Linked DNA regions of Homo sapiens: all the other regions are linked to region 7. Evidence: fine-mapped expression QTL. A gene starts in region 7. Each other region holds a variant in brackets. All regions are shown on one strand. Distances are from middle to middle. Region 1 holds the start of SNRNP40 (small nuclear ribonucleoprotein U5 subunit 40). Region 2 has its middle 8.4 kb from the start of SDC3. Region 3 overlaps ZCCHC17 (zinc finger CCHC-type containing 17). Region 4 overlaps ZCCHC17 (zinc finger CCHC-type containing 17). Region 5 has its middle 74 kb from the start of PUM1. Region 6 overlaps LOC124903892 (a long non-coding RNA gene). Region 7 holds the start of SERINC2 (serine incorporator 2).

What was found.
Region 1: its variant is fine-mapped to the expression of SERINC2 in whole blood (INTERVAL, PIP above 0.99).
Region 2: its variant is fine-mapped to the expression of SERINC2 in whole blood (TOPMed, PIP above 0.99).
Region 3: its variant is fine-mapped to the expression of SERINC2 in whole blood (TOPMed, PIP above 0.99).
Region 4: its variant is fine-mapped to the expression of SERINC2 in whole blood (TOPMed, PIP above 0.99).
Region 5: its variant is fine-mapped to the expression of SERINC2 in whole blood (INTERVAL, PIP above 0.99).
Region 6: its variant is fine-mapped to the expression of SERINC2 in cerebellum (GTEx, PIP above 0.99). The same link has a PIP of 0.9 or more in cerebellar hemisphere and nucleus accumbens.

Annotation. Positions count from the first base shown.
Region 1 is chr1:31,295,236-31,299,300 of GRCh38, reverse strand. SNRNP40 (small nuclear ribonucleoprotein U5 subunit 40) reads left to right here and starts at 2,513. Exons shown (of 10, transcript NM_004814.3): 1 at 2,513-2,690. The coding sequence starts at 2,550. ZCCHC17 (zinc finger CCHC-type containing 17) reads right to left here and starts at 2,269. Exons shown (of 8, transcript NM_016505.4): 1 at 2,226-2,269. RefSeq lists an enhancer at 2,535-2,744. The variant A/G (reference allele first, on the strand shown) is at 2,401.
Region 2 is chr1:30,915,166-30,919,230 of GRCh38, reverse strand. It overlaps the pseudogene RN7SL371P. Among named protein-coding and RNA genes, the nearest start is that of SDC3, 8.4 kb to the right of the region's middle. The variant A/G (reference allele first, on the strand shown) is at 2,067.
Region 3 is chr1:31,352,109-31,356,173 of GRCh38, reverse strand. All of the region lies in intron 7 of ZCCHC17 (zinc finger CCHC-type containing 17), which reads right to left. Among named protein-coding and RNA genes, the nearest start is that of FABP3, 19 kb to the left of the region's middle. RefSeq lists silencers at 1,118-1,285, 2,978-3,272. The variant T/C (reference allele first, on the strand shown) is at 1,930.
Region 4 is chr1:31,321,727-31,325,791 of GRCh38, reverse strand. All of the region lies in intron 3 of ZCCHC17 (zinc finger CCHC-type containing 17), which reads right to left. Among named protein-coding and RNA genes, the nearest start is that of ZCCHC17, 27 kb to the right of the region's middle. The variant C/G (reference allele first, on the strand shown) is at 2,285.
Region 5 is chr1:31,137,344-31,141,408 of GRCh38, reverse strand. No RefSeq gene overlaps it. Among named protein-coding and RNA genes, the nearest start is that of PUM1, 74 kb to the right of the region's middle. The variant C/G (reference allele first, on the strand shown) is at 2,061.
Region 6 is chr1:31,376,710-31,380,774 of GRCh38, reverse strand. It overlaps LOC124903892 (a long non-coding RNA gene), which reads right to left. Exons shown (of 2, transcript XR_007065573.1): 2 at 3,288-3,963. Among named protein-coding and RNA genes, the nearest start is that of FABP3, 5.7 kb to the right of the region's middle. RefSeq lists a silencer at 3,679-3,973. The variant C/T (reference allele first, on the strand shown) is at 2,222.
Region 7 is chr1:31,411,147-31,415,211 of GRCh38, reverse strand. SERINC2 (serine incorporator 2) reads right to left here and starts at 1,999. Exons shown (of 10, transcript NM_178865.5): 1 at 1,908-1,999. The coding sequence starts at 1,946. RefSeq lists enhancers at 1-480, 1,751-2,251 and silencers at 1,975-2,034, 2,115-2,184.

The DNA of each region.
Region 1 (4,065 bases), 120 kb after region 7:
CTCATTCTCCCACACTCCACAGTGACTTTCAAATCTTCTACAATATTCTCAAATTTCTCAAAACTGGATCCTCAACTGGATCCTGGATAATCCCTTATCCCCATCGGTTAGCACATCCTCTCCTCCTCTTTACAATCAGATCTATGAAAAATACTGTGTAGGTTCACTACCTACATTTTCTTGTCCAAATCCTTGCCTCATATCTGGCTTTTGGCCCAATCACACCAACAAAATAACTCTTGCTAAGGTTACTGTGACCTCCATGATGATAAAAGCCAAAATATGTTTTTCAATCTTCATGTTATTTAAATTCTAGAAATTTCTATCACAAATCATTCTTTTGCTTCTGAGACATTCTTCCAGTCCTCCTTCCTTTCTTCTGTATCTCCTGTAGGTTCACCTGTTCTTCACCATTAAATGTTGGAACTAGTCAAGGTTCTGACTTAGCTGACCTTACCCACACCTATGGCTCAATTCATGTATATACAAATTATGCCCAATTTTATATTCCCAACACAAATCTCTCTTCTGAGCACAAAGCTGTATTTCAAACTGCCTCTTGGATGTCATGAATGACCCCACACAATCAATCAATCAATCAATAAAAACTGATCTCAGCTGGGAGCAGTGGCTCAGGCCTGTAATCCCAGAATTTTGGGAGGCTGAGGCAGGTGGATCACTTGAGGCCAGGAGTTGGAGACCAGCCTGGCCAATATGGTGGAACCCCATCTCCACCAAAAATACAAAAATTGGCCGGGCACAGTGGAGGCGCCTGTAATCCCAGCTACTGGGGAGGCTAAGGCAGGAGAATTGCTTGAACCTGGGAGGTGGAGGTTGCAGTGAGCCAAGGTTGCACCACCACACTCCAGCCTGGGCGACAGAGCAAGAACCTGTCTCAAAAAAAAAAAAAAAACAAAAAAAAACTGGTCTCTAATCATCTTCTAGTGTTCCCTATCCAGCTTGAGGGATTCCGTGATAGTGAGTGAATGGTACCACCATCTATTCAACTACATAAGCCAGAAACCTAGGAGTTACCTTTGATTCCTCTCTTCACTCCCTAAAATCAACCCATCACCAAGTCCCACCCATTTTACCTCCTATATACCTCTAGAATCTGTCCAATTCTCTGCAGTTCCACCCATATCTCAGTCCTCACTGACATCTCTGACCAGGATTACTGCATATCCCAAGTGGTCCACATACATCGACTAGGGCTTCCCCAACCCCCGTCTGTTCACACCACTGAGCCTGAGGGATCAAGTCCCCTCCTCCACCACACCCCACTGGGGGAAGACGGCTCAGTGGTATCTCATCCGTTTTAAAATAAAAGCTACAAATTCCTGCAAGGTCTGACCGCTATCACGTACAGCTTCATCTTGTACCATACTCCCTTCATTCTCTTTGTACCAGCCACACTGGCTCTTTGTGCTTTTAGTCATTTTCCTCCCAAGTGCCTCAGGGCTCTGAACAAGTAGTTCTCTATGGAAGGTTCTGCCTTCACTTCTTCACCTAATTAATTACAACACTTCCTGCAGCTACCAGCGCAGGCATCTTTTCCTCTGAAAAACCTTCCTGCTTATTTCAGGCACTCATAGCATCAGGCAGCAGTAGGAGGCATTTCCATGTATTAGTGAGGTCATTGTTTAACGTTTTCCCCACCAGAGTTAAACGCCCTGAGAGTAGGGACCGTGCCCGGTTCACAACATACCCCCAACGCGCTGCTAAATGAATATCAGCAGGACGACTGAGGCAATGACCACGTTCATGGGCATGAGTCTCAAATTTCTCAACAAGACTGTGCTCTGGAGAAGGAGTCGGACATTTCCTTCATCACTGTCTCTCTCAGGGGGGCATACAGTAGGCCCTGATCAAAAACTGCAAAATCAGTGGCAGAAACAAGTCAGCCTCCTCGGCCAAATGGGGCACCGGAGGAGGCTGGGACGCAGGCCTTTCTCCCTGGGAATGCCCGGCACAGGACTGGCCACGATGGGCGCTCTTGAAGAAGGGAGCCGCAGGGGCTGGGTCTTGCCGCCAGAGACCCCAAGGCTCCGCTCCTGCCCCGAAAGGGAGCCCAGGCTACTACTTACCACAGCTGGGGACTCGGGGCCCGCCTCCCACCCCTTGCTGTCAGCACCCTCAGCTGAGAAGGGCAGGTTCAGACTGCACAACCGAGGCGTCGCCTCCAGACTCAGGCAGCCACCCACCCCGTTCTTCCTCATACGTACTAGGCGTCAGCTCCAGGTCCCCGAGTCGCTGCGCTGAACTAAACGCCGACCCCAGTCAGCCAGCGCGTTTCCACCCACAAGACCCAGCGCGCCTAGGGCGGTCGCCAGCTCCGTCCACCAATCCTGGTATCGCACTCTCATGACGTCAGAAAGATATGCCCAATAACAAGAGACT[A/G]TCCGAGGGCGGTGCAAATGGAAATATTGAAAGCCGATTGGTTCTTCCAAGCTGGAAGTTGTGGAGGAAGGACTAATTTGGAACCAATTGCGTGGCGCCTGAGAGCGGCAGCGCGGTCAGTGGCGGCGCTGAAGAGACCGGTTGCCGCCATGATAGAACAGCAGAAGCGTAAGGGCCCAGAGTTGCCGCTGGTTCCAGTCAAGCGGCAGCGGCATGAGTTGCTGTTGGGAGCGGGGTCTGGCCCAGGAGCCGGGCAGCAGCAGGCGACGCCGGGAGCCTTGCTGCAAGCGGTAAGTGAAGAAGCAGGCGGCCTTTGGCCCTCAGCTCATCTTCCTCCCCTCAGAGCGCTGTATCTGGTGATCCCTGACCCTTTCCCGCATTGCGGGGGCAGAACGAGAGTTTCTACGCAGAGTTAAAGCACATAAACACTGTAAAAGCTCCCCATAGCCTGCGAATGCTGCGTACGTGTTCCCCCGTTTGGCGCCCGTTTTCAGCCTCTCGACTGCCCTGAGATAGCATTAGAATTAGAGTTGAGGACCTTGGGCTCAAAACCCTGACCCGGGTTTAAGCATCCTGACTCTAACATGGATCTGGCATAGAACAAAAATTCCGAAGAGTGTGTAGAATGAATGAATGAGGGAGGGAAGAAAAAAGGGAAATGATTTGTGTTGGCTCGTTTTGGGACTTTGGGCAAGTTGCTTTTCCCTTTATTTCTCTGCACTAGTATTATTAACAACTAAATAGCAGCTAACATTCATTGACTCTTGTACTAAAGTGTTTCGTATATGAAATTTCCATTGATCTTGGTAGCAGCCTGTTAGGAACGTTATTAACCCATTTTGCAGATGGAAAAACAGACTTACCAAGTACGTGATAGAAGCAGATTTCGAACTGAGAAACCATGCTCCTAACTACATTTTTTGTAAGATAGAAATAGTGATCACACTTCTAATGTCCTGTTTAGGCTCAGACGAGGAAATACGAGTGTCCTCACATCTCCTCAATAAATCCTGCTGGCACCGTCCTCAAAATAGGTCTAGAATTGCTACTTCTACCATCTCCATCATTGCCTCATGGCCTAAGCCATTATTATCTCATCTGGCATTTTTGTAGTGGGACCCTAACTGGTCTTCCACTTTCTACCTTTGTATCAGCACCTGTTACCAAGCCAATAACCAAAGGAATCCTTCTAAACATCAGATCACATTACACTCTGCAGAAAACTTTCTGGTGGCTTTGTACTTCATCCAGAGTAAAAACCAAAATTCTTGTAATTATTTGCCCTCTTTCCCTTTACCTCTCTGACCAATTTCTTATTGCTCACCTGGCTTCAGTTACTCTCTCTTCCAAGCCTCTGCTTCAGGACCTTTGCATTTGCTGTCCTCTCTGTGGGATTGCTCTTCACAAATGTTTACATGGTTTACTATTCAGCTCCTGCGAATATTTGCCCAAATGTAATTTTTTCAGTGAGGATTTTCCTGACCACCCTATTTTAAATTGCAGTACCACATACTGTGGAACCCACATTGCTTCTCTCTCTCTCTTTTTTTGTTTTTTTGTTTTTAGACAATCTCTCTGTGTTGACCACTGGCTCAGTACAGCCTCCACCACCTGGGCTCAAGTGATCCTCCTGCCTCAGCCTCCTGAGTAGCTGGGACCACAGAC
Region 2 (4,065 bases), 500 kb after region 7:
TCCTGCATACTGAGGAAACTGCTGACTCAGCTGGTTTGAAGGACCTGACTGGTTTGAAGAGCTGACTCACCAAAAAATGCAGTTTCCATGTCCTGATGATGTCATCCCCCTTACTCAAAACCATCAATGACCCAAGTTTTCTAGCCCCTCACCCTCAACAATCCCCTTAGAAATCCCAGCCCAGAACTCCTCGGAGGGATGGATTTGAGGATCTCCTCGCTTGGTGCCCTGTGATCAGTAAACTCTTTCTGCTTCTGCAAACCCTGCTGTCTCCATGTAATGGGGTCTGTTACTGTGCAGTGGGCAGAGGAACCATAGTCCTGTAATACTTTATTTATTTTTCAGGATGGAGTCTCCTGAGGCTGGGCGTGTTGGCTCACACCTGTAATCTCAGCACTCTGGGAGGCCGAGGCCTTTGGGATCACGAGGTCAGGAGTTCGAGACCAGCCTGGCCGAGATGGTGAAACCCCATCTTTTCTAAAAATACAAAAATTAGCCTGGCGCAGTAGTGGGCGCCTGTAATCCCAGCTACTTGGGAGGCTGAGGCAGGAGAATTGCTTGAACCTAGGAGGCAGAGGTTGCAGTGAGCCGAGATCACACCACTGTACTCTAGCCTGGGTGACAGAGTGAGACTCCGTCTCAAAAAAAAAAAAAAAAAAAAAGAAGATGGAGTCTCCTCTGTTGCCCAGGCTGGAGTGCAATGGTATGATCTTGGCTCACTGTAACCTCTGCCTTCCGGGTTAAAGCGATTCTCCTCCCTCAGCTTCCTGAGTAGATGAAATTACAGGCACGCGCCACCATACCCGGCTAATTTTTTGTGTTTTTAGTAGAGACAAGGTTTCATCATTTTGACCAGGCTGGTCTTGAACTCCTGATATCAGTTGATCCACCCGCCTCGGCCTCCCAAAGTGCTGGGATTACAGGCGTCAGCCATTGTGCCCAGCCCTATAACCCTTTCACTTGTTAAATTAAAATGGAGACCAGGTCTGAAGAATCCCAGAGCAGACAAAACCAGTTAGGCCTCATACATGACCTCAACCTTGCTTGATTTGCAAACATAAGCAAAAATTGAGCTATTTCTTGTAAATGCCTCTATTAAAGAAAAACAGAACTTCAGCTCAACCAGTCAGAAGTAGTCCACAAATTTTTATATAACGGGGGACTTTCTAACGGCATAGACCAAATAAACAACTATATAATTGCAACCAATCAAATAATTTATTTTACTTCTGCGTTTATCCCTTAAATACTTGCCTCTGATGATTTGTCACTGGAACATTAAACCTCTTCTGGTTTGGTGTTTCCCAGTTCATGAATTGCTTTTCACTCAAAGAAGCACTTTAAACTTATCTGTGGGATCTAACAATCAAAACAATTAAACTCAGGAAGATAGAGAACAGAAGGTTGGTTACCAGATGCTGGGAAGGCTAGTGAGGGGGTAGAGGAGAGGAGGTGGGGACGACAGTTAATGGGTGCAACAAAAAAGAAAGGATGATAAGACCTAGTATTTGATAGTACAAAAGGGTGACTATAGTCAATAATAACCTTTTTTTTTTTTTTTGGAGACAGAGTCTCACCCAGGCTGGAGTGCAGTGGCCCGACCTCGGCTCACTACAACCTCTGCCTCTTGGGTTCAAGCAATTCTCTGCCTCAGCCTCCCGAGTAGCTGGGATTACAGGCACCTGTCACCATGCCTGGCTAATTTTTATATTTTTAGTAGAGATGGGGTTTCACCATCTTGGCCAGGCTGGTCTTGAACTCCTGACCTTGTGATCCACCCACCTCAGCCTCCCAAAGTGCTAGGATTACAGGCATGAGCCACCACACCCGGTCCTTTTTTTTTTTTTTTTTTTTTTTTTTTTGAGACAGAGTCTCACTCTGTTGCCCAGGCTGGAGTACAGTGGCACGATCTTGGCTCACTGCAACCTCCGCCTCCCAGGTTCAAGCTATTCTCCTGCCTCAGCCCCCCGTGTAGCTGGGATTACAGGCACACACCACTACCTCCGGCTACTTTTTGTATTTTCAGTAGAGAAGGAGTTTCACTGTGTTGTCCAGGCTGGTCTTGA[A/G]CTCCTGGGCTCAAGTGATCTGCCCACCTCGGCCTCCCAAAGTGCTGGGATTACAGACGTGAGGCACTGTACCTGGCCTAGTCAACAATAATTTAATCGGCCGGGTGCGGTGGCTCAAGACTGTAATCCCAGCACTTTGGGAGGCTAAGGCGGGTGGATCACCAGGTCAGGAGACTGAGACCAGCCTGGCTAACACGGTGAAACCCCATCTCTACTAAAAATACAAAAAAAAAAAAAAATTAGCCAGGTGTGGTGGTGGGCACCTGTAGTCCCAGCTACTCAGGAGGCTGAGGCAGGAGAATGGCGTGAACCCAGGAGGTGGAGCTTGCAGTGAGCAGAGATCACGCCACTGCACTCCAGCCTGGGCAACAGAGAGAGACTCCGTTTAAAAAAACAAATAAATAAATAAATAAAAATTAAAATTAACATAATAATAATTTAATCATACTTTTAAAAATAACTTAAAGTGTATAATTGGATTACACTTCCTGGTGCTCCTAGATACCAGCATGGGAACATGTCCTTGGGCAGGGCTGGACCAACAACTCCAGGGGCCGAAGCCAACCTGTTCCAGGGTCCTGGCAGCCACCTGCCCCCTCCCTGTGGAACCTCAGACTCTCTCAGTTCCCGTGGGGGAAGGGTGGGGTATCCTCGCCCTCCCACCTCAGGTCTGGGGTGAACCAGACAAAGAATGACTTAAAAGTAGTGGCCTAGGGGCTGGGCATGGTGGCTCATGCCTGTAATCCCAGCACGTTGGGAGGCCGAGGCGGGCGGATCACGAGGTCGGGAGATCGAGACCTTCCTGGCTAACACATGGTGAAACCCCGTCTCTACTAACAATACAAAAAAATTAGCCAGGCGTGGTGGCAGGCGCCTGTAGTCCCAGCTACTCAGGGGGCTGAGGTAGGAGAATGGCGTGAACCCAGGAGGCGGAGCTTGCAGTGAGCCGAGATCACGCCACTGTACTCCAGCCTGGGTGACAGAATGAGATTCTGTCTAAAAAAAAAAAAAAAAAAAAATTAGTGGCATAGGGTTGGGTGTGGTGGCCCACCATAGTTCCAGCTACTCCAGAGGCTGAGGCAGGAGGATCTCTCGATCCCAGGAGATAGAGGCTGCAGTGAGCTGTGATTGTGCCACTGCACTTCAGCCTGGACAACAGAGTGAGACCCTGTCTCTAAAAATAACAACAACAAAAACACAGTGGTCTGCTCCATGTGACTGTGGGCCTTGCCCTATGCTGGGTGCTGTCCTGTGTTGCTTTGTTTGCCTCCCTCCAGCCTTGTGAGCCGTCACTGACCCTAACTTGCATGGGAGGAAAATGGCCCTGGCCACTGGCCTGGAAGTGGCAGACCCAGAATTTGAGCCCCGAGTGCCCCAGGCCTCTCTTTGGAGTCAGTGCTGCCAGGGCAGCTGCTCTTCCCCTCCACCATGGCCAGCGGCAGGACTGTCCGCAGAGAATTCAGGGTGGCTACCCGCATCTGATCCCTTCGCAGATGACGAGACTGAGGCCCAGGGTGGGAGAAGCACCTGCTCAGAGGCACACAGGAGGCGAGGGCAGCACTAAGGTGTCCCCTGGTGCAGTTGCTTGCCTGTTGCCTGCCTCCCATCCTTGGTGGGAGCTCCCTCAGTGTCCAGATCTGTGCCCAGCCCTCGCTGGGGCTCGATACCTCTAGGTTGAAGTTTGAATGTGGGTCCAACAGTCTCGAAAATCCAAAAAACCAAACACACACACAAATGTGATGTACTGCATATCTCAATGACAGCTGTGCTCAGAGAGGGGGACCCAGTGGTCAGTATCCACAGCCCTGGGGAAAGGGGGATCTCCCCCCACAGGCCCCGGTCACTCTCCCCCACCCACCTCCTAGAGGCAGCTGAGCTGCTGCAGCCTCAGAATGAGGTGAGAAAGAAAATATATTTTTAGGGAGGCATATTTTTGGTTCCAGGAAAATGATTCTAAATGAGCAGTTTATTCCCAGGCACGGGGGTGTGTTCCTGGAAT
Region 3 (4,065 bases), 59 kb after region 7:
TTGAGTGTAGGTACCATATGATCTTTATTTCATGAGTTACTTTTTTAACTGTTAGAAATGCATTAACTGAACTTACATGAGTTACTATCATATATGCCCTTCCACACGCCAGGCATTCCTACTCTCCACTGTCCAACTCAGGAGCATGGACTGCTAAAGGCATGTTCCTTCACAAATCTACTCAGTTCCATATTTGGCTCCCAGAGCTGACTAGTCCTGAAACAAGTGTCCAAATCTGCCACTCACACACCAAAAAAGCCATCTCAGACAGAAGATTTTACTGTTAAGGAAAACCAACCTCCTGCTGGAATCCAAGATTTAGAGGGTAAAAGGAAACAGGAGGGCTGGAATCTTGATTTACAGTTGTGAGCAGAAACAAATCAATAGATAACATCACATGATGGCTAACGGTAGCTGGGAACAAAACAAAAACCCACCAAAAACTGACTTGATGAGTCCTGATATGTCAAGTACCTAACACAATGCTAGATACCTATGAAGCAGATAATACATATTTGTTCAGTAAATGAATAATTGAAGAGTTAAATAAATGGTTGAAGTGTGATATACAGAAAAGAATATTGTTAGTAATCTGAAGACATGGGTTATTTTTTCAGCATTATCTCTTATATTTGTGTGACTTCCGGTGAGTTACGTCAATTTCTCTGAAGCTCCATTTTACTCATGTGTAAAATGGTGGGATAATAATTCCTGTTCTGGCTATCTCATAGAATTGTATAATGATAAAAAGAAACAAAAACAGCAATGTATTTTATAAACTGTAAGCACTAAACAAATATGAGGCATAAAAGGTAATGACGGGATTAACAATGAGGTGAAAAGACAACGATGCTAAATGCTATCTTGGTAGAAATAGTGGGCATCAAGAGGAAAGTTTTACCCTTCTACACTCCCTAGAACACTTTTTAATCAAAGAGGACTCATGAGTTAGAAGTTCATATACACAAAGATACTTTTTTTTTTTTTTTTTTTTTAATTGAGATGGAGTCTCACTCTGTCGCCCAGGCTGGAGTGCAGTGGCGCAATCTCGGCTCACTGCACCCTCCGCCTCCTGGGTTCAAGCAATTCTCCTGCCTCAGCCTCCCAAGTAGCTAGGATTACAGGCCCTCGCCACCACGCCTGGCTAATTTCTGTATTTTTAGTAGAGACGGGGTTTTGCCACGTTGGCCAGGCTGGTCTCAAACTCCTGATCTCAAGTGATCCACCCGCCTTGGCCTCCCAAAGTGCTGGGATTACAGGCATGAGCCACCGTGCCCGGCCAAAGATACTTTTAAGAAATAATAATGTATAATGATTATTACTGCCATTGTTCATCAGACCATTCCTCTACTAAGTGAAAGGCAATGGAGGGCTGGGTAGTAGGTTGACTAAGCAGGTCATAAAGAGCCTCATACCTAGCAGATAGAGCCTCAGTAATTGGTTTTGTGAACTGAAATACATATCTCAAAGCAGCTTTAGAAACAAAGGAATAACAAATTATACTCAATATATTCAGCAAAAAGAACTCAACCAAAGATCCACAGAAGTGAGATATCCATATACCCTCTTTAGGAATGTAACAAGTACCATTTACCTCTAAAAGGTTAAAAGAGAAAGAATAATGCTTGGAACATACAAATAGAATCACAGTTAAAAATCTAGATCTGGCTTGAGCCCAGGACGTCAAGGCAGCAGTGAGCCACGATCATGTGACTGTACTCCAGCCTGGGTGATACAGCAAGACTCTGCCTCAAAAGAAAAAAAAAACTAAATCTGCAAGAAAATTATTTCTGTTTACAGATGGCATGATCTTCTATGTAGAAAACCCTAAAGAGTCCACAAAAAAATCCTGTTAGAACGAGTAAGTGAATTTAGCAAAGTTGCAGAATACAAAACGAACATGCTAAAATCAGTTGTGTTTCTATACAG[T/C]AGCAAGGAGCAATCAGAAAAAAAATTAAGAAAACAATTCACACAGTAGCATCAAAAAGAAAAAAATACTTAGGAAGAAACTTAACCAAGGAGATGAAAGACATGTATACAGAAAATTACAAAATGTTGCTGAAATTAAAGAAGATACAAATAGATATCCAATTTTCATGGATTGGAAGATTTAATACAGTTGAAATGTCCATACTATCCAAAGCAATCTACAGATTAAATGCAATCTCTATCAGAATTTGCAAAAATATAAAAATCTATCTTAAAATTCATATGAAATCTTTCAAAGGACCCCAAATAGCCCAAACAATCTTGAAAAAGAACAAAGCTGGAGGATCCACAATTCCCAACTTCAAAGCTTACTAAAAAGCTACAGTAGTCAAAACAGTGTGGTACTGACATAAAGACATATAGACCAGTGATAGAATAAATCCTCACTTATTTGGTCAAATGATTTTCAACAGGGGCCAAGACCATTCAGTGGGGAAAAGGACAGTCTTTTCAACCTATGGTGTTTTAAAAACTAGAGATCTACATGCAAAGAAATTTTGGACCCTTTCTGTACACCATATACAAAAATAAACTCAAAATGGATCAAAGACCTAAACGTAAGAGCTAAAGCTACAAAACTCTTAGAAAAATATAAGGGAAAAGCTTCATGACATTGGATTTGGCAATGATTTCTTGAGTATGACATTAAAAGCATCAGCAATAAGAGAAAAAAAGGTAAGTTTAACTTAACCAAGATTAAAATTTTTTTGTGCAATGAATACTATCATGAACATACTCAACATTACTGAACTGTACACTTAAAAATAGTTAAGATGGTAAATGTTATATGTTCTTTACCACTATTTTAAAAAGTCTAAATCTGATAGGGAAAAAAGGGACACTATCAACAGAGTAAAAAAACAATCCACAGATTAGAAGAAAGTATTTGCAAACCATATATCTGATGGGATTGATATCCAGAACATATAAAAAATTCCTACATATCAACAACAACAACAAAATAAACAAGCTTATGCAAAATAGGCAAAGAACTTAAATAGCCATTTCTCCAAAGAAAATATACATATGGCCAATAAGCACATGAAAAGATATTCAATATCACTAATCATTAGGGAAATGCAAATCAAAACCACAATGAGATGTCACTTTACACGCATTAGGATGGCTACTCTCCAAAAAACACAAAACCCAGAAAATAAGTGTTGGCAAGGATGTAGTGACACTTGAACCCTTGTGCATTATTGATGGGAACGTACAATGGGAAACAGAGTGCTTCCTCAAAATATTAAAAACAGAATATATGATCCAGCAATTCTACTATTAGGTATATACCAAAAAGAAAGAAGAGTGGGGTCTCAGAGATATTTATACATCCATGTTCACAGCAGCATTATTTACAATAGCCAGAATATGGAAGCAGCCCAAGTGTTCACCAAAAATAAATGGATAAGCAAAATGTGGTATATACATAAAATGGGGCTCGATGTGGTGGCTCATGCCTGTAATCCCAGCACTTTAGGAGGCCAAGGTGGGAAGACTGCTTGAGGCCAGGAGTTCAAGATCAGCCTGAGCAACATAGCAGGACTCCATCTCTACAAAAACTAAATTAGCTGGGTGTGGTGGCACACTCCTGGATCACTTGAGCCCAGGAGGTTGAGGCTGCAGTGAGACATAATTGTGCCACTGCACTCCAGCCCGGGCAACAGCACAAGACCCTGCTTCAAAAAATAAATACATAGAACAGAATATTATTTGGGCTTAAAAAGGAAGAAAATTCTAACATATGCTATGATGCAGATGAACTTTAAGGACATTATGCTAAGTGAAATAAGCCAGTCACAAAAACAAATACCACATGGTTTCAAGACAGAAAGTAGAACAGTGGTTGCAAGTGCAGGGAGGAAGGGTGAATGGGGGGCGTTATTGTTTAATGAGTATAGAGAGTTCTCGAGATCAAAGACAGTGATGGTTGTACAACAATATGAATGTATTTAATGCCAATGAACAGTACACTTCTATAATGGTAAATTTTATGTTATGTGTATTTTACCATAAAAACAAACAAAAAACACTATACAAAAAGGCTGCAGATTTTGGCTTATCAAATGGGTCAAT
Region 4 (4,065 bases), 89 kb after region 7:
TGCTTGGACCTGCTGGGCTCGTTCTGCCCACTTGGCCTGGCAGGCTGCATTCAGCTTTGCTTGGGGCCACTAGGCCTGTTCCATCCACTTGGTCTAATGGGCTGCGCTTGGCTCATGCTGCCGTCCCAGATCCCACACCTGCCAAGGGCGAGCCAGGCTCGGAGTGGCGAGGGATGCATGAGTGAGTGAGCATGGGGTCCAGCCACTGTGCACAGCCAGGCACACTGGCTGCTGTGGCTGGGCAGGCAGCTCCAGGTGCTGGCACAGGCACCAGCTCCATGTGAGGCTGTGGATGGACCAGGCATACCACAAGCGGCTTCCACTGTGGACTCTGGGGAACATGGTGGTGCCCAGAAGCTTGGAGAGGCCAGGAACCATAAAGCCCCAAAGAGGTGTCACAGCTCTGGCTCAGGGAGCCCTTGGATCTGTTACAGCTCTTTCAGTCCCGCCATTCAACGGGTCCCAAGTTCTTGTCTTGCATCCAGGAAGAATGAGGTAAGCAGACAACTGGAGGGTAAGCAAGGCAAAGAGTTGCTTTATTGAGTGATGGTACAGCTCTCAGGAGACCCAAAGTAGGTAGCTCCTTTCCACAGGCAGGTCAACCTGTTGAGTGCAGCTCTTAGCAGAGAGGAGACCCAGAATGGGCAGCTCTTATCTGCAGGCAGGTCATCCCAACATCTGCAGCCCTTGACGGAGAGGAGACCCAGTGTGGGTAACCCATTTCCACAGGCAAGTCCTCCCAGTGTCTGCCCAAGTCTGGCTGAGTCCAGGATTTTTACAGTCTTCAGAAGTGTGTGCTGACTGGTCCATGGGCAGGCCCAGGAAAAGCACCTTAAGTTCTCACTCTGGGCCACAGACTCCACCTGGAACTGACAGCCTGGCCCCTATGCTTTAGGCCATCCCTGGCTTGAAGGTGCGGCTTCACCGAGACCTGCCCCTTTCCACCCAGGAGCCTGTCTGCCTCTTGTCACCATCAATCATGTTGTCCATGACGCCCAGTTGTTCTGTGCCCAGGGGCACCTGCAGGCCCATGCTGAGCCACCCTCAGCACCCCTTTGGCCTCCCTCCTGTGCTCACTGGCACCCAAAGTCCAGAGGGGGCCAAGATGGTAGGAAGCTGGCATGGCAGCACCACCCCAAGGTGTGCAAACCCAGCCAGGTTGCAATAGTGCCCAGGCTCAGCTTCGACTTTGCTCCAAAATCAGAGCAGGAGCCGGGAGCTTGGAGAGTCCAGGCAGTGGGAGCAGGCACTTCTGAGACTATGGGGGAAAGGGGTCTTCCCGGACCTCCAAGAGTGCAGGGATGCCTGGGTCTGCAGCCAGGGCTGGGTGGCGGCAGCTGCACCCATGAGGGTGGGCTCCCACCCCACTAACTCATAAGGGGGCAGGGCTCCTGCCAGCTCCATAGAACATGCAGCCCTGGCCGCACAGCCCCCACTATGGCTGGCATCTTTGCAGCAGCCACTCTAGACAGGCCTCCATCGCCATCAGTGGGGTCTTGCTATGTTGCCCAGCCTGGCCCCGAACTCTTGGCCTCAAGTGATCTTACTACTTCAGCCTCCCAAGTAGCTGGAATTACAGGTGCATGCCACCACTCCTGGCTCATGTCAGTAAACTGACATTTATTGTGTTTCATTGATTCTAAGATGCACTTTCTTTTCCTCTCACTTTAATCTCTCTGAAATTGGAGTGCTTCTCATAATCAATGATGTTTTACAACTGTTATCAGTCAGGTAGCAGTGTGATGGAATTGTATGAAAACCTTCCATGGCATCTTTCTGGTAAGATGAGGCATAATTATGTCTTAGAAATACAGTCATTCTTTCAATCATCTGCATAGTCTACAAAACAGATGCACATAATTTATGTAATTCTCTACTTACACTAAATTCTTCAAAGAATTTCTGGATTAAAGGGTAATAAGCACATAAAAGATGTTAATAGGCATTGCCAAAGTCTGTGAAATTATGCTCCTGATAGAGAGTAAAAGTATCCATTTCTAACACTGGGTATTAACAGCAATCTTTTAAAATATTTATTAATCTCAAAGATTTTAGGAGTGTTTTAAATCATTTTTTAAAAATATTTGATAACTTTGCTGCCCTATGTGAAAAAAAATTTTTGAGATAATTGTACATTCATCTGCACTCAAAAGAAATAATACAGAGGTCTAGGCCGGGCTCGGTGGCTCACGCCTGGAATCCCAGCACTTTGGGAGGCCGAGGCAGGCAGATCATGAGGTCAGGAGATCGAGACCATCCTGGCTAACACGGTGAAACCCTGACT[C/G]TACTAAAAATACAAAAAATTAGCCAGGCATGGTGGCGGGTGCCTGTAGTCCCAGCTACTTGGGAGGCTGAGACAGGAGAATGGCGTGAACCCAGGAGGTGGAGCTTGCAGTAAGCCGAGATTGTGCCACTGCACTCCAGCCTGGGCAACAGAGCAAGACTCCGTCTCAAAAAAAAAAAAGAAAGAAAGAATACAGAGGTTTTATGTACACTTTATCCAGTTTTCTCCAATGGTGACATTTTGGAAAACTATAGTACACTAACACAACCAGGATGCTGGCATTGATACTGTGGTATAAGAAATACATATTCGATCTTTGTCCCTAGTTCCTGGCAGAGTTCCTAAAACGCTTGGACTATTCTGAGTGATAGAAGTGTCTTTTGTTATTCATTAAGTCCCTTAATGAGGTGACTACTGTGGGTCCCTAGATAGCTTCAGAAACAGAGAAATCAACGATGTGATTAGATAGGGTTAGAAATTTCAGCCTGGGCTGGGCATGGTGGCTCACACCTGTAATCCCAGCACTTTGGGAGGCCAAGACGGGCAGGTCACAAGGAAAGGAGTTTGAGACCATCCTAGCCAACATAGTGAAACCCCGTCTCTACCAAAAATACAAAAATTAGCCAGGCATGGTGGTGCACACCTGTAGTCCCAGCTACTCAGGAGGCTGAGGCAGGAGAAACGCTTGAACCCGGAAGGCAGAGGTTGCGGTGAGCTGATATTGCACCACTGTACTCCAGCCTGGGCAACAGAGCTAGATTCCCTCTCAAAAAAAAAAAAAAGAAATTTCAGCCCTACCCTCTGACTTCCGGGAAGGGGAGAGGGGCTGGAGACTGAGCTCTATCACTGAAGGCCAATAATTTAATCAACCATGTCTATATAACAGATCCTCCATATAAACCCCTAAGCAATGGAGTTTGGAGAGTTGGTGAACACATCCATGTGCCAAGAGGGTGACACACCCCAACTCCATGGGGACAGAGGCTTTGTACTCGGAACACTTTGGGTCTCACCCTGTGTACTTCTTCATCTGACTGCTCATTTTTATCCTTTAAAATAAACTAATAGTAACTATAGCATTTTTCTGAGTTCTGTGAGTCACTCTAGCAAATTACCAACTTTGGGGGGAAGTGCTGGGAATCCCAAAAATTGTAGCCAAGTGAGACAAAAGTGTAGGTAATCTGAGGATTCAATATTGGGGCTGGCATCTGAAGTGAGGGTAGTCATGTGGGACTGAGCCCTTAAGTTTGTGGAATCTGACACTAATTCCCAGGTAGTTAGTGTCAGAATTGAATTGAATTGTTGGGACATCCAGTTGATGTTAGAGAATCAGAGAACTGGAGAATTGGTTGGTGTAGGGAAAAACATCTCAGATAAAATCGACTGGCTCTTGTTCAGATTTCCCCAGTTTTACCTGTACTCATTTGTGTTTCTGTATGTGTATGTATTTAGTTCCACGTAATTTTACCACATGTGTAGATTCATGTATACACTGCCACAGTTAAGATACAGAACAGGTCCCTCACCACAAGGATCCTTCATATTGCTACTTCCTTCCCCTTCTTAATCCTTGTGAACCATTAAATAATTTGTTCTCCATTTAAATAACTTTGTCATTTCAAGTATGTTACATAAAAATCTTTGCAAATCATATATTTGATATGAGACTAGTATCCAGAATATATGAGAAACACCTAACTCAACAATAAAAACAAAAATAACCCTATTTTTAAAAGGGAAAAGGCAGGTGTGGTGGCTCACACCTTTAATCCCAGCACTCT
Region 5 (4,065 bases), 270 kb after region 7:
TCACCCTGCACTCTTTGACCAGTGATCTGTACACTTCGGCCCACTCCAAAACCTTTAAATACCCTAGCCCCAAACTCATCAGGGAGACCGATGTGAGGTCTCCTCTCCTCTCCTCCTTTGATAGTCTTGTGATTAAACCTCTTTCTCTGCTGCAACCTGGTGTCTTGGCATATTGACTTGCTGTATGCATTGGGCAATGGCACTATTAGAGTTACAATTCTAATAAACGAAATCATAGGCTGGGCGCGGTGGCTCACCCCTATAATCTCAGCACATTAGGAGGCTGAGGTGGGCAGATCACTTGAGGCCAGGAGTTCAAGACCAGCCTGGTCAACACGGCAAAACCCCGTCTCTACTAAAAATACGGAAATTAGTCGGTTGTGGTTGTGTAAGCCTGTAATCCCAGCTACATGGGAGGCTGAGGCAAGAGAATAGCTTGAACCTGGGAGGCAGAGGTTGTAATGAGCCAAGATCATGCCACTGCACTCCAGTCTGAATGACAGAGCAAAATCCTGTTTCTCTCTTGTTGCCCAGGCTGGAGTGCAATGGTGCGATCTCGGCTCACCTCAACCTCCGCCTCCTGGGTTCAGGTGATACCCCTGCTTCAGCCTCCCGAGTAGCTGGGATTACAGGCATGTGCCACCACACCCAACTAATTTTGTATTTTTAGTAGAGACAGGGTTTCTCCATGTTGGTCAGGTTGGTCTTGAACTCCGGACGTCAGGTGATCTACCTGCCTCGGCCTGCCAAAGTGCTGGGATTAAAGATGTGAGCCACCGCGCCCGGCCTAAAAAAAAATTCTAATTAATGAAATCATTATCCATGCAGCTATGTGTTTCACTATTTCTCCCCCACTGGAGTGTGTGTGCCAAAAGGGGAAGGCCCTCTTCAGTCTTGTTCATCCATATACATAATGACTTGCACAGTTACAAGCAAGGAAGAGAGGCTCAATAAATGGTTGCTACGTGAATGAAAGGAAGGACTGGAAAACTGTTAGCTTCTCTCTGTCTCCCTCTCTCTGAGGCAATGCTGTCTTTTGTCTCTCCTTTGCCCTTGGGCCTTCTGGATTCTTCTCTCTGTCTATATCTATCTATCTATCTATATATCTACAGATAGATATATAGTTTTGTTTTTTTTTTTTTAGATGGAGTCTCGCTCTGTCTCCCAGGCCAGAGTGCAATGGTGTGATCTTGGCTCACTGCAACCTCCGCCTCCCGGGTTCAAACAATTCTCCTGCCTCAGCCTCCTGAGTAGCTGGGACTACAGGCGCCCGCCACCCCGCCAGGCTAATTTTTTTGTGTTTTTTTTCTCGTAGAGATGGGGTTTCACCATGTTAGCCAGGGTGGTCTCGATCTGACCTCGTGATCCGCCCACTTCGGCCTCCCAAAGTGCTGGGATTACAGGCGTGAGCCACCACACCCGGCTCTGTCTATATTTTTAAATCATGTTTCTTTGTCTGTTTTGTTTTTTGTTTTGTTTTGTTTTGTTTTGTTTTGTTTTTGAGACTGAGTCTTGCTCTGTTGCCCAGGCTGGAGTGCAGTGGCGCAATCTCGGCTCACTGCAACCTCCGCCTCCTGGGTTCAAGCAATTCTCCTGCCTCAACCTCCTGAGTAGCTGGGATTACAGGCACGTGCCACCATGCCTGGCTAATTTTTTTGTATTTTTAGTAGAGACGGGGTTTCCCCATGTTGGCCAGGCTGGTCTCAAACTCCTGGCCTTGTGATCTGCCTGCCTCGGCCTCCCAAAGTGCTGGGATTACAGGCGTAAGCCACCAAGTCCAGCTGTAAATCATGTTTTTAATTAAAAAGAACTTTTGTGCTGGGCGCGGTGGCTCACGCCTGTAATCCTAGCACTTTGGGAGGCCAAAGTAGGTGGATCACCTGAGGTTGGGAGTTCGAGACCAGCCTGACCAACATGGAGAAACTCCATCTCTACTAAAAATACAAAATTAGCCAGCAAGGGGGCGCATGCCTGTAATCTCAGCTACTTGGGAGGCTGAGGCAAGAGAATCACTTGAACCTGGGAGGTGGAGGTTGTGGTGAGCTGAGATTGAGCCATTG[C/G]ACTCCCGCTTGGGCAACAAGAGCGAAACTCTGTCTCAAAAAAAGTTTGGCTGGGTGTGGTAGCTTGCGCCTGTAATCCCAACACTTTGGAAGGCCAAGGCAGGAGGATCATTGAGTCTAGGAGTTTGAGACCAGTCTGGGCAACATGGCGAATCCTTGTCTCTACAAAAAATACAAAAATTAGCTGGGCATGGTGGTGTCAGAAGCATTTGAACCAGAGCAACTCCATCTTGAATAGGGGCTGGGTAAAATAAGGCAGAGACCAGGGCTGCATTCCTGGACAGTTAAGGCATTCCCGGACAGTTAAGTCACAGGGTGAGACAGGAGATCGGCACAAGATACAGGTCATAAAGACCTTGCTGATAAAACAGATTGCAGTAAAGAAGTTGGCTAAATCCCACGAAAACCAAGATGGCGACAAGAATGACCTCTGGTCGTCCTCACTGCTACACTCCCACCAGTGCCATGACAGTTTACAAATGCCATGGCAACAGCAGGAAGTTACCCGATATGGTCTAAAAAGGGGAGGCATGAGTGATCTATACCCATTACTTAGCATATAGAAATAAAAATAAACCATAAAAATGGGCATCTATCAACCCTCAGGGCTGCCTTGTCTATGGAGTAGCCATTTTTTATTCCTTTACTTTCTTAAATAAACTTGCTTTCAGCTGGGTGCGGTGGCTCCTGCCTGTAATCCCAGCACTTTGGGAGGCCGAGGCGGGGAATCACGAGGTCAAGAGATCAAGACTGTCCTGGCTAACACGGTGAAACCCCATCTCTACTAAAAATAAAAAAAATTAGCCAGGCGTGGTGGCACACGCCTGTAGTCTCAGCTACTCCGGAGGCTGAGGCAGGAAAATCACCTGAACCCATGAGTCAGAGGTTGCAGTGAGCCGCGATCATGCCACTGGCACTCCAGCCTGGGCAACAGAGCAAGACTTCTTCTCCAAAAAATAATAATAATAATAATAATAATAATAATAATAATAATAATAATAAACTTGCTTTCACTTTATTCTATGGGCTCTCCGCGTATTCTTTCTTGCACGAGATCCAAGAACCCTCACTTGCGGTCTGGATCAGGACCCTTTTCCAGTAACAGTGGCACAAGCCTATAGTCCCAGCTACTAGAGAGGATGAGGTGGGAGGATAACTTGAACCCAGGAGATCAAGGCTACAGTGAGCTATGATGAGGCCACTGCACTCCAGCCTGGGCAACAGAGTGAGATCCTGTCTTAAATAAAAACCTTAAACATTTATTTATTTTTTAAATTTAATTTATTATTATTATTATTATTATTATTATTATTATTATTATTATTTTGAGACAGGATCTTGCTCTGTTATCCAGGTTGGAGTACAGTGGCACAATCTCAGCTCACTGCAAACTCCCCCTCCCAGGTTCAAGCGATTCTCGTGCCTCAGCCTCCCAAGTAGCTGAGATTACAGGAGTACACCAACACACCCGGCTGATTTTTATATTTTTAGTAGAGACAGGGTTACTCCATGTTGGCCAGGCTGGTTTTGAACTCCTGGCTTCAAGTGATCCACCCACCTCGGCCTTCCAAAGTGCTGGGATTAAAGGTGTCAGCTGCCATACCCGGCCTATTATTGTTTTTTTATAAAGCCAGGTTTCTCCATGTTACCCAAGCTGGTCTTGAACTCCTCCTCTCAAGTGATCAGCCTCCTGAAGTTCTGGGATTATAGGCATGAGCCACCATGCCAGACCAAAAAAACCCGTTTTTTTTTGTTTTTGTTTTTTTTGGTTTTTATTTTGAGACGGAGTTTCCCTCTTATTGCCCAGGCTGGAGTACAATGGTGTGATCTCGGCTCACTGCAACTTCCGCCTCCTGGGTTCAAGTGATTCTCCTACCTCAGTCTCCTGGGTAGCTGGGACTACAAGTGGGCACCACCATGCCTGACTAATTTTTCTATTTTTAGTAGAAACGGGGTTTCACCATGTTGGCCAGGCTGGTCTCGAACTCCTGACCTTGTGATCCAC
Region 6 (4,065 bases), 34 kb after region 7:
TTTTTACTCCTGCACAGGGTGATCCCATTCTAAGGACAGCCTTCTTCATCTGACTTTATCTTTTCCTGACTCTGATCCTATCCCTCTAACCTCATGGTCCTCCCACCGCCAACCTTTACAAGGAGAAATCTTTCACCCTGGGCTCCAGTCCTGGTCACCCCCAGCCCACCCAGTCCTTCCTGCAAATGGGCTCCTTCCTTTTCCTATCCAGTGTCTTTGTTTACTATAGAGTCCTGGGTTGCTGCCCCATCAACCCATCCCGGATAACTCCCAAGATCTCAGCCCAAGCCAGGCTGACAGTGTTGGCTTTGTACTTGCTTCCTGGAACACATCTGGCCTCAGACTCCTGAGGCCAAGACACACTCCCTGCCAGCCACCCTGCCATGGCTTGCCAGCTCTCCTCACCCAGGGACAACAGTGGGCATCTGTCCACACCAACCAGGCTCGTCAGGTCTCCGGGAGCTGCTTGAATCCTTCCACAATCTTGGGTAAGCTGTTCCTGAATAGAATGCATTATGAGGCATGACTACTGGACCATGTGTTTGGTGCCAGAAGAGGGGATGGAGGCCAGGCCACATGGCACATGAACATGCTTGAGACCTCATGGTGATGTGAGGTGCCATTTTATAAGCCTAAGGTTTACCTTTCTAATTATACTTTACCTAATCCAATATTAGAGGCTATTTAGAGTTTTGCAGAGGCAACCTTTTTTTCATTTGAGAGAAAAGGAAACTGAAGTTTGAGGAGGGAGCCAGGGTCAGCCCCAGGTCTGGGGCCTGGTTTAATCACTTTCTGGGAATAGCCCCATCCCCCCAAAAAAGCTGCTGTTGAGATCCAGGCTACCCTCATGCTTTCCAAAGGGCAATTCTCACCTGGGAGTACTTGGGGCCCCACCACACACAGGAAGTGGCCCAGGCTACTGGCCCTCAGGGATGGAGTGAGAAAGAGGACACAAAACAGGATACTTTGGCAGGAGGAAAGTTGAGAGTAGTGGAGGAGATGGTGATGGTGTCAGAATTTCAAAACAGAGAGAACACTGCAAGAACAAGTGGCTTTCTTTTTCTCTGGAGAGACTGTCCACTCCACAAATACATGCCAGGTCCTGTGCACAGCAAGAAGCAACACAGACTGGGTCCCAGCCCTCTAAGGGCCTCCGGTGTAATGGCAAAGACAGACTCTGAAACAAACATCAAAGCAGGATAGGGAAGGCCAGGGAAGATGGTGTTACCCAGAAGCAGGATAGTTATGCTGAAAGCTGAAAAATGAGTAGGAGTTGGCCGGGTGTGGTGGTTCATGCCTGTAATCCTAGCACTTTGGGAGGCTGAGGCAGGTGGATCACTTGAGGTCAGGAGTTGGAGACCAGCCTGGTTAACATGGTGAAACCCCATCTCTACTAAAAATACAAAAATTAGCCAGGTGTGGTGGCAGATGCCTGTAATCCCAGCTACCCAGGGGACTGAGGCATGAACATCGCTTGAACCTGGGAGGCACAGGTTGCAATGAGCCGAGATTGCACCATTGCACTCCAGCCTAGGTGACAGAGCTGGACTGTCTAAAAAAATATATATATATAAAGATTTTTTAAAAAAGAAAAGACTGTAGGGGTGAGGAAGAGCACTGCTGGCAAACATAAAGAGAGAAACATGGTGTCCCCTCAAGGTACAAAAAGGTCAGAATGGCTGCAGTGTGTGTGGAAAGCTGGGAGAGGCAGGTAGGGGCTAGAGTGTGTGGGCTGTGATGCTTAGGCTGTGGCTATGGGGTCATGTCAAAGAAAGTGGGTCTTGTGCTAAGGACCACAGGCAGCCAAGGAAGGAGGCTGGAAGAGAAAAAACATAAACCAGGTACGCCTGTCCCAGCTACTGGAGAGGCTGAGGCAGGAGGATCGCTTGAGGCCAGGAGTTGGAGAAACATCCTTTGTGCTGCATTCCTCAATTTGTCCTCCCCTAGCTTCTCAGAGTCCTTGGGAGGCTGGCTAGGTGAGAATAGTGATAATGCTCTTTGCAGATTTAGAAACTGAGACCCAGTGAGATCATGACTTGCCCGAGGTCACACAGCTGTTGTATACATATGGCAAGACTGGAACCCAAGTCTCACTCCAGAGCCCCTAAAACTAGGGAGGTAGATAGATTCTCTCCTTCACTCACTCATTTGTTCATTCATTCAATATACTGTACCTGTCTACAACCATACCACCCTGAATGCACCCGATCTTGTCAATATA[C/T]TATACCTTATTCTCCGCCAGAAACTCTTCTTAAAAAGGATTTCAGCAACAAATTAGACCAAGGAAATAGATGAGACCAGGCTATACAGTCTGGGCTTTCTTCTGTCAGCAACAGGGAGAGGATGGCTTCTGAGAAGGCAGATTGCCCCTCCCCACTGAGGTACCCCCTGTCCCCCAGGGCAGGGAGGGTCATTGTTCTCATTTCAGGGAGCATTCTGCCACAGGCAGCAGTTTCTTAGAAGCAAATTGGTGTTGAGTAAACCTCTACCTTCTGCCATCATTTGTTCTCTCCAGCCCACAGTATCTGGAACTCTTGGGGAACAAGGAAGCAGATTTCCTAGTGGCAGAAAGAACACTCCACCCACTGTAGCTGCAATCCCCCTGCACTGTGAGCTAAGTGAGAGCAGGGAGCTCTCCTGTTCACCCTGGATCCTCACTGAGCCTAGCACAGTGCCTGGCCATAGGAGGTGCTCAATTAAGATTGGTAGAATGAATGAATATTTAAAGAGAGAGAAAGGGAAATATGAGGAAACTTATGTCCAAGATCTGAAGGCCACTCTGTGACCTCAATGAAGAGGAGTTGGCCATATACTTGAATCCTTTCCTACTTATTCAGGGTCTCAAAGGGCCTTGGCTTACTCAAATATCCCGGGGAAAAGAACTGGAAGGAGGAAAGGAGAAAGGAGTTACTATTCCTTCAATATTAGTGCACGGTAGGCTTTCCATTTGTTATCTCTTTTAATTGTCCTAACAACCCTGAGAAGTTGATGGCCTTCCTCTATTTGGGAGAAAACAAGACTCAGAAGGGGGAAAGGGAGCTTGTTCTAGGTCTCTAGCTAGTAAATGCAGGCCTGGAGTTTAGAATCAGGGCTCTTTCCAAAGACACTGCATCTGAAGATGTCAGAGGCATTCTAACCAGAGTGACTCCATCTTGAATAGAGGCTGGATAAAATGAAGCTGAGACCTGGCTGGGATGCATTCCCACAAGGTGAAACATTCTTAGTCACAAAATGTTTACAGTTAAGAGTTAAGGGAACAGGTTAATAATTTACTAAACAGACATTTCTTTACTTCTCTAATAAACTTGCTTTTACTTTATTCTGCGGATTTGCCCCGAATTCTTTCTTGTGTGAGATGCAAGAACTCTCTCTTGGGGTCTGGATTGGGACCCCTTTCTGGTAACAAAGACCCCATGGACCAAGGGCATAAAAAGAAGGGATGTCTAAGACTTGCTGGTTCTATGGCAGGCAGAGGCAGAAAGAGCCCCACCATCATTCCCAGCAAATGGGAAAAGTTCCCAGTTGCAGATATTAGGGGTGGGATGGGGCGGGGGTAGTCAGCAACCATAGACTTAGACCCTGAAGAGGCAAAAAAGGAGGGCCATGTTCTTGGGTCAGCAGAGCTTCTACTCAGCTTCTTCAGCCTCTAGCTCTTTCCTGGTGCTAGTAGCACATTCTCTAGTGGAGGCATCCAGATGGCAGGGAGGGTCCAGGAAACAGCTGAACATGCTGAGCAGGCCTCCCTTGTCCCCGCTCCCCATGGCCCCATGGATCATCCGGTGCTGCAGCTCATCTCATTGGCTGGCTTCTGGTTACTCATCTCTCCTCTTCTCCATCTTCCCAGCCTGTGGTTGCCGTGGAAACATAGAACAGTGACCTCACCATAGGATGAGGGCTGGGGAGATGCTGTTCTTGGCAGGCGCTGGTCTTGCTGCCTGCCAGATGTTATATCCACATCTGGATCTGCCAAGGGCAAGACAGAGGAGTACAAAAAGGGACAGGGCTCACATTCTTCCCCAAATGTAGTCAGCATAACAGAGGAAGAGGATGCAGGTAGATCAGAGG
Region 7 (4,065 bases):
GAAGGTGTGGGCAGAAGCCTGGACCAGGAATCAGATGTTGATCCTAACTATGCAGTTCTTCATCCTTTCCCTGTGCAACCTTAGGAAAGTCAGCTATCTTCTCCGGGCGGGTGGCAGTCTTCTCATCTGTAAACAGATGGTTTGAGCAGTCCTATCTGCTCTCAGCATTGTAGAATGCTGTAACTCAGAGACCAGCACTTGGCTTTGCATTGTCTCCAAATGGAATTCTCCACCCACCTTTCCTTGATGTTAGCAATAATTCCCACAAGGAGCACTCACGATATGCCAGGAACTGTGCCTCATCTCCCAACAGCATTGTGAGAAAGGCCCTGTTACTGTCAACTGCCAGATGGGGTGACCAAGGCACACAGGGCTGGCAGGCTGCCCCTCAACATCTCCACCCCCAGGCCAGCCCAGCAGGGCCTGTGCCTCACCAGGTGCAACCGATGGAAATCAGGTCCACTGTGGAAGCTCTGCCTCCCTCACCAGGAAGCAAACCCTTGTTGGCAGAGACCTGGCCCAAACCTTGAATTCTTTGGGCTGGGAGGGATTTCAGGCACCAGCTTGATTCCTCCTCCTGCACACGCACATGCACACGCACACACACACACGAAAAATGGAGGCCTAATGAGGCGAGAGGCTCTCTTGCCTCTCTGTGCTGTCTATGCTGATCTCATTCTCAGAAAAAGGCTGTAAAGTAAATCTCTAGACCCTCAGCTCTCCCCTACACCCCCTCCTCTCTCTCTCTCTCTCTCTCACACACACACACACACACACACACACACACACAACCCGTCAGGGACAAAGGAAAGCGAGTCCCGAGATTCAGCAGCCGCTGCAGCCCCTTCTCCCTCTCAGGGCCTCTTTGTGTGGGGCCAGAGGGGGAGGGGGCTGCCTGAATGAACCTCAGATTTAATGAGGGGAAGAGGAAAGGAGAGGGGGGCTGGGGAAAGGGAAGGGAGAACGGGCCTCCCAGCCGGGGTCTTGCTGGAGCCCCTCCCCTCTGCGGCTGCAGCTACAGAACAGAGGTTGGCCTCCCCACAGGTCCCGAACCCGCGACCGGGCACTCCCCGCGCACACCCGAACCTCCCTCGATTCCTGCTCTCCCAACCCAGAGTTCCGCCCGGTGGTCCGTGACGACCCGCACCCGCCTCACTCGAGGGCAGCTAAGAAAGTCCGGGGCTCCCTCCGCTCCCATCCCAGTCTCCGCGCTGGGGCCCAGATGATCCGGGGCGAGCTGGGGAAGTGCCTGAGAGGCAGCGCGAGCCAGACTGAGGACGGTAAAGGGACCGCAGAGAGACTGAGGGACGGACGGGCGGACGGGCAGACGGACAGAAGACAGCAGACGGACAAAGACAGTCGGACGAACGACGGACACAGACAGGAACCAGACAAATACGAACGGACAGGCGGAGCCCGAGCGACAGGAACAGGCGGACTGGCAGGCGGCCAGAGGGGTAGGGCAGGGCACTCGCCAGGAGGGACGGGGCCCGGGCGACCTACACAGAGAACCAGGGCGTCCGGGACGGGGACAGAGGCCACCCCGAGGACCGCCCCAAGTGGGGCGACGAGGGCCCACAGAGCTGCCCCGACCCCGGGCTCCAGGCTTAGTCTCTCCAGGTCCCAGGAGGGCGCCCGCCGAGGGCACTCCCCTCCTGCCCGCGGAAACCCGAGCCGGGACCGCAGCTGCCCGGCGCCTGCCGGCCAGGACTGAGCAGGGGGACGGGGGCAGCGGGATCCGGGTGCCGAGTGAAGGTCCAGGAGGGCGAGCAGGCGGGGCACCGGCCCAGAAAGACAAGTTTGCAGGAAGGAAAAAGAAGAAACTACTCGGAGCAGAACAGAAGAAAGTGAGGGCCCGCAGCAGGAACGGGCGGCGCGCGCGGGCGGGCGCCGGGGTCGGGACTCACGCAGCTGAGCAGGGAGCAGGCTCCCAGGCAGGCCCCCATGGCGGCGGCTCCCGGCTTCGGGCGCCCGGCGCCGGGCGCGGGGCGCGGACCTCGGGATCCGGGTGCCGGGCCTGGCCCCTCCCCGGCCCCGGCCCCGCCCCGGCCCCGCCCCACCTACCGAAGCCGCTCGACGCTTTCCGGCGGCGCTCGGGGCCTCCCCAGACTCACCTGGGGCAGGTGCGCCAGGAGGGACCCTAGGGAAGGGGCCGGTCGGGGATTCCCGCGGCCACGCGAGCGGCGCAACCTGACCCAATCGTGGCCCGGGCTCGCATCCTGCTCCAAAGTGAGCGTTCGGAAATCGACCTCGGTTTGAGCCCGTGTGACCCCAGGACACTGTCACCCTTGGGAACAGAAGCCAAGAGGTGGTCACCGCTGACTCCTCAGTGCTTGGCGCAGGGCCTCTGCTCAATACGTAGATGCTGAGGTTGAATGCTGAATGACTGGATAAAGAAACTTCGGCAAGTCACTGCACCTCTATGAGCCTCAGTTTCCCGGTCTGTAAAGTGAGGATACATACCTCACAGGGTGGTTACAACACATGGTAGGTGCTTGACAAATGTAAGCCCCCATCGTCACTGTTTTCTTCTTCCTTTTTAAGAGACAGGGTCTTGCTCTGTCACCCAGGCTGGAGTGCAGTGGTGCAAACATAGCTCACTGCAGCCTCGACCTCCTGGGCTCAAGTGATCCTCCTGCTTCAGGCTCCTGAGTAGCTGGGACTACAGGTGCATGCCACCATGCCCACCTACTGCTTCTTCTAAGACCCCAGCCTCTCACTCTAAACCCATCCTCCCTTCTCTCCATCTGTTCTTCAAACTCCACTGACTCCCAACAGCCTGCTGGGAGCTACACACTCCCTACAGCCACCCCTGCTTGGTGGCTTATCACTCCCTAGGGATGCCCAAACTGGTCCCTAGCTAAGGAGGTCAGAAGGTGGGGAGGGGCGGCCACATTCCTGACAGATGGCTTTCCAGGGGTAGGTGTGAGAGACCCAGAAGTAGGGCTCTGTAATTAGTCTCCCTTCACCCTTAGCCCTGTCCTCAGCCACCTCTGGACAAGATAATGTTAGGGAAAGAAGTCTCTGTGCCTCGAAGCTGGCCCCAGGGCCAAAGAGCTGGTTGACTGCATCCTTGGCTGATTCACTGGGCGCCAGGCTTAGCCATTAATTGCACCAGGACTGTTCCACAAACACACCCTATACTTTTCCTCCTCCGCACTTTTGCCCACACAATGCCCTCCTCTTTTTTTTTTTTTTTTTTTTTTTTTTTGAGACAGGGTCTCACTCTGTCACCCAGGCTGGAACACAGTGGCCCAATCATGGCTCACTGCAGCTTCAACCTCCTGGACCCAAGTGATCCTCCCACCTCAGCCTCCCAAGTAGCTGTGACCACCAGTGTGTACTACCACACCCAGCTAATTTTTTAAAAATTTTGTGTAGAGATGAGGTCTCCTTATGTTGTCCAGGCTAGTCTCGAACTCCTGGGCTTAAGCAATCCTCCTGCCTTGGCCTCCCAAAGTGCTGGTATTACAGATGTGAGGCACTGCACCTGGCAGATGCCCTCCTCTTAAAGGTCCTTCTCCTTATCCCTCTTTCTCCCCTTTGAAGCTTGCTCACATGCCATACCTCTCAGTGAAGAGAGCCACCACCCTCACCCCCAACCCACTACCTGGTTCCATTAGGAATGAACATCCTCCTGATTCCCCCAAGCCTCCAAACAATATGGGCCTCCCTTATGGCCTCACAAACAACCCGAGCACATGCCCAACTTTCCCCCGTGGTACCATTTGAGCCCCACAACAGCCCTGAGAAGTCGATTAATTCCCCACCCACTCGTTTACAGATGAGGAAACCGAGAAACAAAGAAGTAGTGACACGCGAAATGTAAATCAAGCGTCGAATAAACGTTGACTGTGATCACTGTGGTTGTTGTTACTATTGCTGAAGGCCACACAGCTCAGAAGAAACAGAGCTGAAAGGCAACCTGGCCTGGCTTTCACCCTGATGTCCTACTGCTTCCCTTGAAAAAGTAGAGGTGACAATATCTAGTCTTCCTATTTTTCTGTCCAGCAATATTTCAGTCCTTCCCTAACCCGAGGCCTTTAGGGGACTGTGAGCCACCCA